3 linked regions of the Homo sapiens genome follow. The protein of the gene in region 1 interacts with the protein of each later gene in a biochemical or structural test. Each region holds a gene or a part of one and is shown in the gene's direction. Other genes may lie near its edges. The genes, in order: IQSEC2, MAGI1 and ARHGAP21.

Region 1 (3,569 bases):
CTTCTAGTGAAAGGTATCAGGGAGAAGAATCAGAGTATTGGAGGTAGGACTATAGTTTTAGATCCCAGGTATACTACTCATTATCTGGGTGAACTGCAGCAAATTGCCTAACCTGCCAAGCCCCAGTTTCTTCCTATACGAAATTGGGGTAATGAAGTCTCCTTCACAGAGTCATGGAGATGAAATGAGACAAGGTAGCCGAAATGTCCCAACACATCTTAGGCATTCAAAAAATCCGTATTTCCTGTCCCACCCTCTCTCCTCCTCTGCCCACATATCAATTCCTGAGCTGAATCCCAGTGGGCTATCCTCTCAGCCCCCAGGGGCCACACCAAGTCATTTTGATCATATATATATAATGGAAAATAGTGATTACATCTCATTCCTCCCGATGCCCTCCAAGTTTTCTCTTCTCCAGGCTAAGCAGTCACAGTTAAGTAACATGGTGTTAAGGAGAAAGAGGCAGGCAGACAGAGACGAGGCGGCGGACAGCTCCTTGGTGAGGCCTTCACAGCTCCAGGGCCACTCTACTTCTCAGCGAGGCAGGGATAGAAATTTCAGTTCACCAGATCCTTTGAGACCCTGGGGAAATCCTGAGAGAGGGATTAGTAGCCCAAGACGAGGGGAGGCCAGTAGACACGTGTTTCTATGAGCTCCGTGGGGAGGTGGGGCTGTAGGAGGCCGGAAGCACCCAAGCTCTGGAATCAGGCAGACCTGCTTCCAGAATGTCGGCTCTGCCATTTCCAGCTGTATGACCCTGGGCAAGCTCTAAGACTTCTCGGATACTCAGTTTCTTCCTCTGCACAATGTGGATGCTAATACTGACCTCAGAACTGTTGTGAGGACTGAGAGAGATCAAGTATGTGTAGCGCCCAGCATACTGCCTGGCACATAATAAGAGGATTTGATTCCTGTCAGTTTCCTGCTCCTGCCCTTCCAGGAGCCCCTCTGCTCCGGAGCAAGGTATCTGAGAACTGACTGAACTCTGGAAAGATTGCCCTTTGCCATAGGCTAGAAGGGCCTTACCATCCTTACTGTGAACCATCTGCCATGAAGCTCTTTTTTGAAGGGCAGGGGTGCTTTGGGAGACCTGATTGCAAGAGGGCATGGGAGGGGAGAAGTCAGAAGGGTGAAAGGAAGGGAAAGGGAACAGGGAGAGCAGGCACCAAGAGGGATGAAGGGAAGGCTGAGCAGGAAGGGAGGGTGCAAGACAGGAGCTGGGCACTAAGGGTGCTTCGGTGATGGAGCTGCAGTTTTGGGGGAGACAAGGGCTGGTCGTCCAAGGGGCAAAACACGAAGCCTGGGGACAGAGGGAGGGAGGAGGGAGGAGGAAGGAGAATGGCCCATGGAGGGCTAGGGTCAGTCAGATGGGCTCTCACTCCTGTTCCTGACCTTTGCTCCCTGTCTCCCCGACTGCCACCCAGCGGAGCTGGAGAAGCAGAAAGGTATGATGCGGCCTAACGCCTCACAGCCTGGAGGGGCCAAGGACTCAGTGAATGGGACGATGGCCCGCAGTAGCCTGGAGGACACTTACGGGGCAGGCGATGGGCTCAAACGGGGCGCACTCAGCAGTTCCCTGCGAGACCTCTCTGATGCAGGTAAGCCCTCTGGGCCCCTGCCCTGGCTGGGGAGACACGGGACCGGGTGTCCTCTTTGCCTCCTGTCACTGGCCGCCAGCCTTCCCTCCACCTGCCACACATGCACGCACCCTGCCTTCACCCAGAGCCCTGGGCGCTGCGCCACAGGGGGCCTGGGAGCCAGGTCAGAGCAGGGGGAGCCCAGCTTTTGGGCCAGGGAGTGTGAAGTGGGGCCACAGTCTTGGTCCCTCTCTCTCGCTGCTCCCCCTCTCCTCCTCTTCTCCCTCTTCTGTCTCTCCTGTACCTCCACTCCTCCTTCTCCATCTTTTCCTCCTCTTTCTCCTCCTTCTCCACCTCTCCTCCTCCCCGCCTCCCCCTCTTCAATGGGGGAAAGGGATAATGGGGTGTCTGTCCCCGGGAGGGGCCCAGTCCTGGTGCCCAGCTCTGGAGCCCAGCAGGGTAGGGGGGGGGTTGCTGCTCTGACGCTGGGCTCCTTGCTTGTGGGTGCAGGGAAGCGGGGGCGGCGTAACAGCGTGGGATCGCTGGACAGCACCATCGAAGTAAGTGCCAGCTCCTGCCCCACTCGTCCTCTGCATGAGCCCTGCCCCGGCCATGGAGACCCAGAGGAGGAGGGGACCTGTTGCTCCCCCTCTTCCCTGCTGGGAACCATGCGGCTGCCTCTCCCAGCCAACCACTCTCTCCATCTGTCCTCAACTCTGTCTGTCCTCATTCTGCCTGTCTCTCAGTCTGTCTTCCACTCTCCCGTGCCCCCTCTCAACCCCAGGGCCGACGGCGAGTAGGGATGCCCTTGGAGTTGGGCCACGAGAAGCTCTTACCTCCAAGTCCTGCTCTTTGACCCTGGGCGAGTCACTCTGCCTCTCTGGGCCTAACCTTTTCCCTGCCTGCAAAATGGGGATGAGGAGGAGGTACTGCTAATTTCTCCTCTCCCAGCTGAGGCTCAGCTGAGATAGTGGATGTGACAGCCGAGCTTTGCAAGCTGGGGAGCTCCACATACGCGTACCGGACTGTGATTTGGTTTTTATTACAACTTGGGGTTTGCTGTCTCCCCAGCTCCAGCCCTCAGGGACAGGGGTGGAATTTAGGGCTGGGGGTTTAGGGCATCTAGCCTGGCCTGACTTCCCCCCTCCCCGCTTCCAGGGGTCTGTTATTAGCAGTCCACGCCCTCACCAGAGGATGCCACCTCCGCCCCCACCCCCGCCGCCAGAGGAGTACAAGAGCCAGAGGCCCGTCTCCAACTCCTCATCCTTCCTGGGCTCCCTATTTGGAAGCAAGCGGGGCAAGGGGCCCTTCCAGATGCCACCACCGCCAACAGGCCAGGCCTCTGCCTCCTCTTCATCTGCTTCTTCCACGCACCACCACCACCACCACCACCATCATGGCCATAGCCACGGTGGCCTGGGGGTGCTGCCTGATGGGCAGTCCAAGCTCCAGGCCCTGCATGCCCAGTATTGCCAAGGACCGGGCCCTGCCCCGCCACCCTACCTCCCACCCCAGCAGCCCTCTCTTCCCCCACCTCCCCAGCAGCCCCCACCCTTGCCCCAGCTGGGCTCCATTCCACCGCCTCCCGCCTCAGCCCCACCTGTGGGGCCACATCGCCACTTCCACGCCCATGGCCCAGTCCCAGGGCCCCAACACTATACCTTGGGCCGGCCAGGCAGGGCACCCAGACGGGGGGCTGGAGGACACCCTCAGTTTGCTCCACATGGCCGCCACCCCCTGCACCAGCCCACATCCCCACTGCCCCTGTACAGTCCTGCCCCCCAGCACCCTCCAGCCCACAAACAGGGCCCTAAGCACTTCATCTTCAGCCACCACCCACAGATGATGCCAGCAGCAGGCGCGGCTGGGGGCCCTGGATCCCGGCCACCAGGGGGCTCCTACTCCCACCCCCACCACCCCCAGTCACCATTGTCACCACACTCACCCATCCCACCCCACCCCTCCTATCCACCCCTCCCCCCACCCTCCCCT
Region 2 (3,691 bases), on another chromosome or scaffold:
CGGTATGGAAGCCAATGGTTACATGTTGCCATTTAAATTTAAATGAATTACAGTTAAAAAATCAAAAAATTAAGTTTTTCTGTCTCACTAGCCATATTTCAAGGGCTCAGTGGCTACATGTGACTAGTGGCTGCCATATTGAACAGTGCAGGTGCAGAGCATTTCCATCATCACGGAAAGTGCCATTAGACGGTACTGGTCTAGGGTATTTAAACACTAGTGTCAAGAAGTGACATTTCTTTCCCCTCCCCCCATCCTGGCAGGGAAACATGCACCTAAGGTTCATTCAGGTGCAGAGTTTTGGGCCAAGACCCAGAACATCCTGATCAGTGAGTCTAAGGAAGGAAGTGAAAATGAGTACATTTTAAAAAGCTACCCAGGGGATTTTCCCTGGGTAAGACACAACCAAGTCTTACCGCTGGTGACTGGTAAACAGAGGTTAGGATCTTAGAAAATTACATGTACCACAGGGCTGCAGCTGAGAGCTCCAAATTCCACTGCTTATGGGGTGAAAAGCGTTTCTTTCCAAAAGCTACATTAACTAATGATCCACCCATACGTAAAAAATAATAAAATGTGCATAAATGTGAAACCCTCTGATTTTCCTTCCCTTGTTAAACATTGGAAAAGGAAGTCAGTCGTATAATTTCAAAGCTCTGCTCATGTCTTTATTAAGTTAACATTCTCAGCACAAAATATGCTAATGTATTTTTTTTTAAGTAGATAAACTGCCAGGCACATTTTCACGTTTTCTAACTTAGCCTATAATAAGAGTGAAAAGCTCCAACAACCAAACACCTCTTTTCAGCCTTCTCAAAGACATGATAAATATCATTTCTGTGTGCTTTTATTTGTTCATTCATTCTCTCACTCAACAGAAATTTTTGGAGCACATAAAATGTACCAGACAATATTCTAGATACTTGATATACGTATAAAAATCCTCATGGAGCTAACATTCTAGTGGTTTTATGTACCTGCATATCAATGCCACTCATGCATGGGAGTTGGGGATAGTAAGAAAACCAAAGCAATAAGTAAGATGTATATTCTTTTGGAAGGTGGTAAATGCTAAGGACAAAAATAAAGCAGGAAAAAGGGATTGGGAATGTTGGAGGTACTGCAATTTTTAGTAAGGTGGTTAGGGAAGGTCTTGCTGCGAAGGTAATGGCTGTTGATGTCTCTGCATAACTGAAATGTGTTTCCCTTCAGGGCCCTGGAATGCCCTAGCAGCACCTGCTACAAGAGTGTAGGCCAGTCACCCTCCTCCCCCTAAAGTAAACTTTGGGGGTTATCTTACCTCACCTCAATTTCCATCTGATAATTGTCTTGGCAGCTGTCTCCCCAAAGCTCTTGGTGCAAGTGACACCACCCTCCCAACGCCTTGGCAGATGACTTTGCGTGGCGAATCCTTGTAAGTCTTGCCTTTCTTTAGCCACTATGACAGGGCTGTAGTTTGTCAACCTTCCAATAAGCTTTGGGACTGCGCTAGAGAGCAGGTTAGCGAAAGGACCTCTGATTGCAGGCAATTTAAAAGAGCCTTCTTTGCAAGAGCCAGAAACTTTTAAAATATGCAATTAAAAATTGTATGCATGCCCAGAGACCTTTTAAACTCTTTTAGATATAACTAACCAAAAATAACTTTCTTTCCTAGGTGCCAGGCTCCTAGTACAGGGGTGTAGGGGACTAATGTCTCCCTCTTTCTCTCTCTCTTTTTGTTTTGGATAACATTTTTGATAGAAAAGAAACAGGGCAGATGGAGAAGCTGTGTGTGGCAAGGACAGGGTATAAGAAGTAAGTAAAGTTAGAAGAGATGAAAGAAGCTGCTCATGAAATTAGGTCTACTACTTGGGATAATCAGAGAAGTTCCAGTAAGTTTCTCAATTACAGAGAAGTGCCTAGTAAAACCCAAAAGAAAACGTTTTGGTTTATGTTCAAAATGTTATTTGTGAATGTATCAAGAAAACTCAATAAAACCTTAGGTAGCATGTTTGGAAATAATTTAGCGATACCTCTATCTGTAAATTTATTTTATTTTTATTATTTTTTTGAGACAGAGTTTTGCTCTTGTTGCCCAGGCTGGAGTGCAATGGCGCAATCTCAGCTCACTGCAACCTCTACCTCCTGGATTCAAGTGATTGTCCTGCCTCAGCCTCCCAAGTAGCTGGGATTACAGGCATCCACCACCTCATCTGGCTAATTTTTGTATTTTTTTTTTTTAGTAGAGACAGGATTTCACTATGTTGGCCAGGTTGGTTTTGAACTCCTGACCTCAGTGCTCCACCTGACTCAGCCTCCCAAAGTGCTAGGATTACAGGCATGAGCCACCACACCCCCAGCCTAATTTATTTTAAATAAGACAGCTGAATTTGGAGCTGTGTGGCTACTGTTAGTAACTACTTAGTTTAGGGATTTTGTGTGTGTGTGTTGTGGGGGGGGTTTCTTTGTTTGTTTTTTTGGTTTGTGTTTTTTAAACAAATATCCTAAACTTGTTTTAAACAGTAATTCTTAGCCCTAGGCATGCGTTGGCTATATCACAAATTTAATAAAAGATCAGATAAATAGGAAAAAATCAGTTGAATTTAGAATTCAATTCAAAGTAATGACCCTTAATTTTGAAAATAGTCATTCTACATTTTTGTCAAATTATTATTTGTGACTATAATATGTTTTCTGGTATTATCTGTGCATTTTCAGCCTGGATTTTCCGTTTGATTAGTTCTGTTGGTTTTTCAAGTGGAAGCCAGGCCCAAAGCAGCACATCAGAAGCCATATAGCAAAATAAAATTAAAACAAAACAAAAGACATAAAACAGACCAGTTCCATTTTCTGTGAAGGGGTTTGTGGCAGCTCAATTCCTGTCAAAGTGCATGAATGGAAACCAAGAAGTGTGTCACCTGACAGGGACTAGTTTCATCCCTCTCTTGTAGTTTCTTTTGGACCCTGGAGTTGACATACTCAATGCTTTACCTCCCTCCATCAACACTGGGGCCTAGGAACATCCTTATTCCTCAAATTAAGAGAGGACTTTCTTAAGATGCTATATGCCCAAAGGCTCTAGGGCATAAGCGTGAAGAATTATCTATATGTTGTCTCAAATCTTGTTTAATTCTCCTTTTCACCAGTGGTGACATTCCTTATGCGTTTCTTATTTTAATCCAGGCAAACCCTTTTTTACACGAAACCCTTCTGAGTTGAAAGGCAAGTTCATTCACACAAAGCTGCGGAAAAGCAGTCGTGGCTTTGGCTTCACGGTGGTTGGAGGGGATGAACCTGATGAGTTTCTCCAGATCAAGAGCTTGGTCCTAGATGGTCCTGCTGCATTGGATGGCAAGATGGAAACAGGTAGCGTCAACATGGCCTTAGTGTGTTCTGTGTGGTGAGACTCCAATCCAGGAGATAAACATGTGCAATCATGATGTTGTTTGTTTGAGCAAGACCAAGCAACGTCATGATTGCACATGTTTACAGCTTTAAACACCTTGAGAATGAGCCAGGTCTCCACATTACATAAATTCATCCCTTGGGACAGATTAAAACCTGTGAAGTCATTTTAAGTTTGGGAAACTGTTTGAGTACAGTAAAGCAATGAGTTACTAAAACTGTAGATCCCCATTTAAATAAATGAATTCTAAACTTGGATTTCTGCAGTGAGATTTTTTTTTAGGAGAAAGCTCCAATGTTCTGTGAG
Region 3 (3,691 bases), on another chromosome or scaffold:
TTTTACTCATCATACTGGTCTTTTCTTCAATACTGCTTCCTCAGGAAAGCCTTCCCTGACCCGCAAGACTCTTTCAGTTGCCCCTAGTGTATTCTCTCAAAACACCCTGCACTTTCAGGAATACCAGTTACAAGTTTATCTATATCCCCCTTGGATTGCAGTCCCTATAAGAGCAGGGACCATGTTTGTTTCCACAGGGACTGACACATAGTAAGTGTCAGGTGATATTTTTTGAATGAATAAATGAATATGCAGGAAAGGCTTTACATTTTATTCAGTGTTCATTTAGATTCCCGGACATTATACTCTCTTGATTATCTTCCTTCCTCGTTGTCACCTCCTTCTGTCTCTTTGAGGTTTCCTCGACATCCTGATTTGCTAAACCTTTCTACACCTCAAAGCTCAGTTAATCCTCATTTCTTCTCCCAATACTGTTTCATGGTTTTAAATATCAAGTATATGCAGATAATTGACACACACACACTCACTTATATTTCTTTATGTGTACATGTGTATATCTCTATTGCTGACCTGCTCCTCTGTCTCGCAGAATCAGATTCCTATATCCAACTGACCTGACTGCCTAGAATCTCCATTTGAATAGTAAATAGGCATATCTAAAACCACAATCCTGACTCTACCTCCATTCCCCTGGCCCACCTTCCCAAGTATGCTCCTTCCAGTCTTCCTCATCTCAAGCAATAGCAATCCCATCCTTCCAGGCCAGGCATCTTGGAGTGATCTTTGATGTCTCTCTTTTTTCTCATATATGACATGTGGATCTGGTTGACTGATTTCTCCACTTCAGTCCTTGCCAGCCTAAAGCCTGTTCTCCACACAGCAATCAGGACAGACAATTTATAAATCAAGTTGTGTCATTCCTTTGCTCAAATTCCTCAAATGGCTTCTCATTTCTCTGAAGATTGAAGGCCAAAGTTCTTGCAGTGACCTGCAAAGCCCTGTATAATTGGTCCTTCCCCCTCCCTGAGCGCACCTCCTGTGCCTCTTCCCGCCTCACTCTGTGCTAGCCATTCTGGTCTCTTGCTTTTCTGCATGTACACAAACGTGGGAGTCCCCAGAGCCTTCCCACTCACTGAACCCTCCCCTTAGAACACTTCCCCCAGTCTCTGCACAGCTTGCTTCCTTGGCTCCTTCGGGCTTTTGCTTAGAGGTCACCTTCCGAGTGAAGCTTTGCCAACCACTCCCTTTGTTGAATGCCCCTCCCCTGCTCCCTGTGCCATGCTCTGCCTTCCTTCCTTGCTTTATCTCCCTATCACTTAGTCTCCACCCGGCATGCTTATGCATTTGATTTTGTTTGTTTATTTGAGACAGGTAATATATCTAGAACGCAGGTGTTGAGAGTGCAGTTTGTCTGTTTTGTTCACATTGTGTTTCTTGTGCCTAGAAGAGTGCCTAGCACATAATAGGTTGTCAATAAATATGTTTTTGGAATGAATAAAGACTTAGCAAAACTCCAAAATGTTACTGAGTTTGCATTTGGACATGTAGTATGTGAATTCTTATTTATTTTATTTCTTTTTGAGACAGAGCCTTGCATTGTCACGCAGGCTTGAGTGCAGTGGTGCAATCTGCGCTCACAGCAACCTCCGCCTCCCAGGCTCAAGTGATTCTCCTGCCTCAGCCTCCTGAGTAGCTGGGATTACAGGCGTGTGCCAGCATGCCTGGTTAATTTTTGTATGTTTAGTAGAGATGGGGTTTTGCCATGTTGCCCAGGCTGGTCTCGAACTCCTGATCTCAAAGTGATCCACCCACCTCATCCTCCCAAAGTGCTGGAATTACAGGTGTGAGCCACTGCGCCCAGCTGAATACTTATTTTAGTTTATATAAAATATGTACAGTATGAAATATGTTCTTCCTTAGACCTCCTGCCCACCTTAAATTCTATTTCATTTCCGTTAGAACTGCTGTTAAAATTTTTGGTGCCTTTTTTCTTTGCACCTTTTTTACCTTTGGGAAGCTGGTAACCAAGTAACAGTAACCAAGACAATGTGTAGTACAAATGTATGAAACAATTTCCACTAAGAGATGAGATCATGATAATTAACAGACAAGTGAAAGGGCAATCAGACTGGTCGATAAGAGAAGCTATAAAAAGATAATCTGTATGGATGATGTTTTATTTCTTAAAACGAATGGCTAGTATATGGATGTTCCTTATTATGTATTTTTATTTTTTCATGTCATAAATATTTCATAACCAGTTAAAAAAAGATCACAAACATTGACCGTGATGAAATGTTAACAGTTGTTTATTCTGAATGATGAGAATATCAGGATTATATTATTTTTACATTTTCTCTTTTTTATTACCAAAATGACAATAAAAGAACACTATGTATAGACTTTAAAAATAGGTAATATGTATTCAGTCTTGTGAAAATTTGGTTTGTGGCAAACCTACACTGCTTAAAACAATACTAAAAAGCATACACACTGCTCAAAGCAACACTTAAAAAACAATTTTTTCTTTTTCTTTTCTTTTCTTTTCTTTTTTTTTTTGAGATGGACTCTCACTCTGTCGCCCAGGCTGGAGTGCAGTGGCGTGATCTTGGCTCACTGAAAGCTCTGCCTCGCGGGCTCATGCCTTTCTCCTGCCTCAGCCTCCCGAGTAGCTGGGACTACAGGCGCCCGCCACCATGCCTGGCTAATTTTTTGTATTTTTAGTAGAGACGGGGTTTCACCGTGTTAGGATGGTCTCGATCTCCTGACCTTGTGATCTGCCTACTGTGGCCTCCCAAAGTGCTAGGATTACAGGCGTGAACCACCGTGCCCGGCCAAAAAACAATTTTTAAAAAGCAAGTTTCTTCATTGGAGGCATAGGATTCATTCTAGACTAGTTACAGTATGGTATAACTCTATTATTTAATTTTAATTTTGTGTTTCTTCATACACCTGAATTTAAGTGTCAGAATACTGTTCCATGCCAAAAGTTTTATGCTGCAAGTTAGGGTTAAAGCTAAAACCTGTTAGAATTGAGAATGATGGCAGTAGCAGCAGCAGGGATCATTAAGTGGCATTTCGGCAGAAGCCTGGATTTTAATGTATTGAGTGGGGCCTATCACTAGATAAGAGCCATCAGCAAAGTGAGTACCCAGATCTAAAGAATTTCTCCGTAAATTGTTAGTGTTCCTTCCCATTCATTTCTTCCAGGTTAAGCGTTTTATGAAGTTCATTGTGCCTTGATGTTCTTCATTTCTTTAGTTACTACCAGGTCAAGTAATCTAGCACAAAGGTAATATTCAGTTTCTTTTGTTCTTTGCTTTGTGAAGGGTCCTGTCTTCTTATTATAGTTAACAATATGCTGATTTAAGTATGGGCAATGCTAGCGTTGATAAGATGCACAGATGCTGTTATTCAATGCAGCTATTTTCTGTTACAGAAAGACCATATGGTAGGCACTTGTTTTTCTGTCTAGTTGATGTGATTAGATTACTAAAACGAAAGGTTATTGGACTTAAAGATTGTCCTACTATTTTATCTAATTTTAATTGACTGTAAGTAATTAAATGTGTTAAAATATTGTAAGCCTTCCATATCTTCCCTGGTTTGAAGTAGAAAGATATCTAAATGCAAAAAACTCAATTTTGGATTGCTTTCACTAAAATAGTTTTATGGTTTAAGTTGCCATGTTCTTATAAAATTGGGTATTGTGCAAATTATTTCACAATCT

Evidence for each region.
Region 2: the proteins of IQSEC2 (region 1) and MAGI1 interact in a test that uses a peptide from one of them, tested with the Homo sapiens proteins (one large-scale study listed by IntAct).
Region 3: the proteins of IQSEC2 (region 1) and ARHGAP21 interact in a test that uses a peptide from one of them, tested with the Homo sapiens proteins (one large-scale study listed by IntAct).

Annotation. Positions count from the first base shown.
Region 1 is NC_000023.11:53,234,351-53,237,919, reverse strand, and holds part of IQSEC2 (IQ motif and SEC7 domain-containing protein 2), read left to right. Parts: intron 1-403; coding exon of another isoform or gene 404-423; exon of another isoform or gene 424-747; coding exon of another isoform or gene 748-755; exon of another isoform or gene 756-1,418; intron 1,419-1,424; coding exon 1,425-1,598; intron 1,599-2,087; coding exon 2,088-2,137; intron 2,138-2,361; coding exon of another isoform or gene 2,362-2,433; exon of another isoform or gene 2,434-2,704; intron 2,705-2,735; coding exon 2,736-3,569. UniProt on the Homo sapiens protein: Is a guanine nucleotide exchange factor for the ARF GTP-binding proteins.
Region 2 is NC_000003.12:65,430,353-65,434,043, reverse strand, and holds part of MAGI1 (membrane-associated guanylate kinase, WW and PDZ domain-containing protein 1), read left to right. Parts: intron 1-3,162; coding exon 3,163-3,345; intron 3,346-3,691. UniProt on the Homo sapiens protein: Plays a role in coupling actin fibers to cell junctions in endothelial cells, via its interaction with AMOTL2 and CDH5. May regulate acid-induced ASIC3 currents by modulating its expression at the cell surface.
Region 3 is NC_000010.11:24,713,859-24,717,549, reverse strand, and holds part of ARHGAP21 (rho GTPase-activating protein 21), read left to right. Parts: intron 1-3,691. UniProt on the Homo sapiens protein: Functions as a GTPase-activating protein (GAP) for RHOA and CDC42. Downstream partner of ARF1 which may control Golgi apparatus structure and function. Also required for CTNNA1 recruitment to adherens junctions.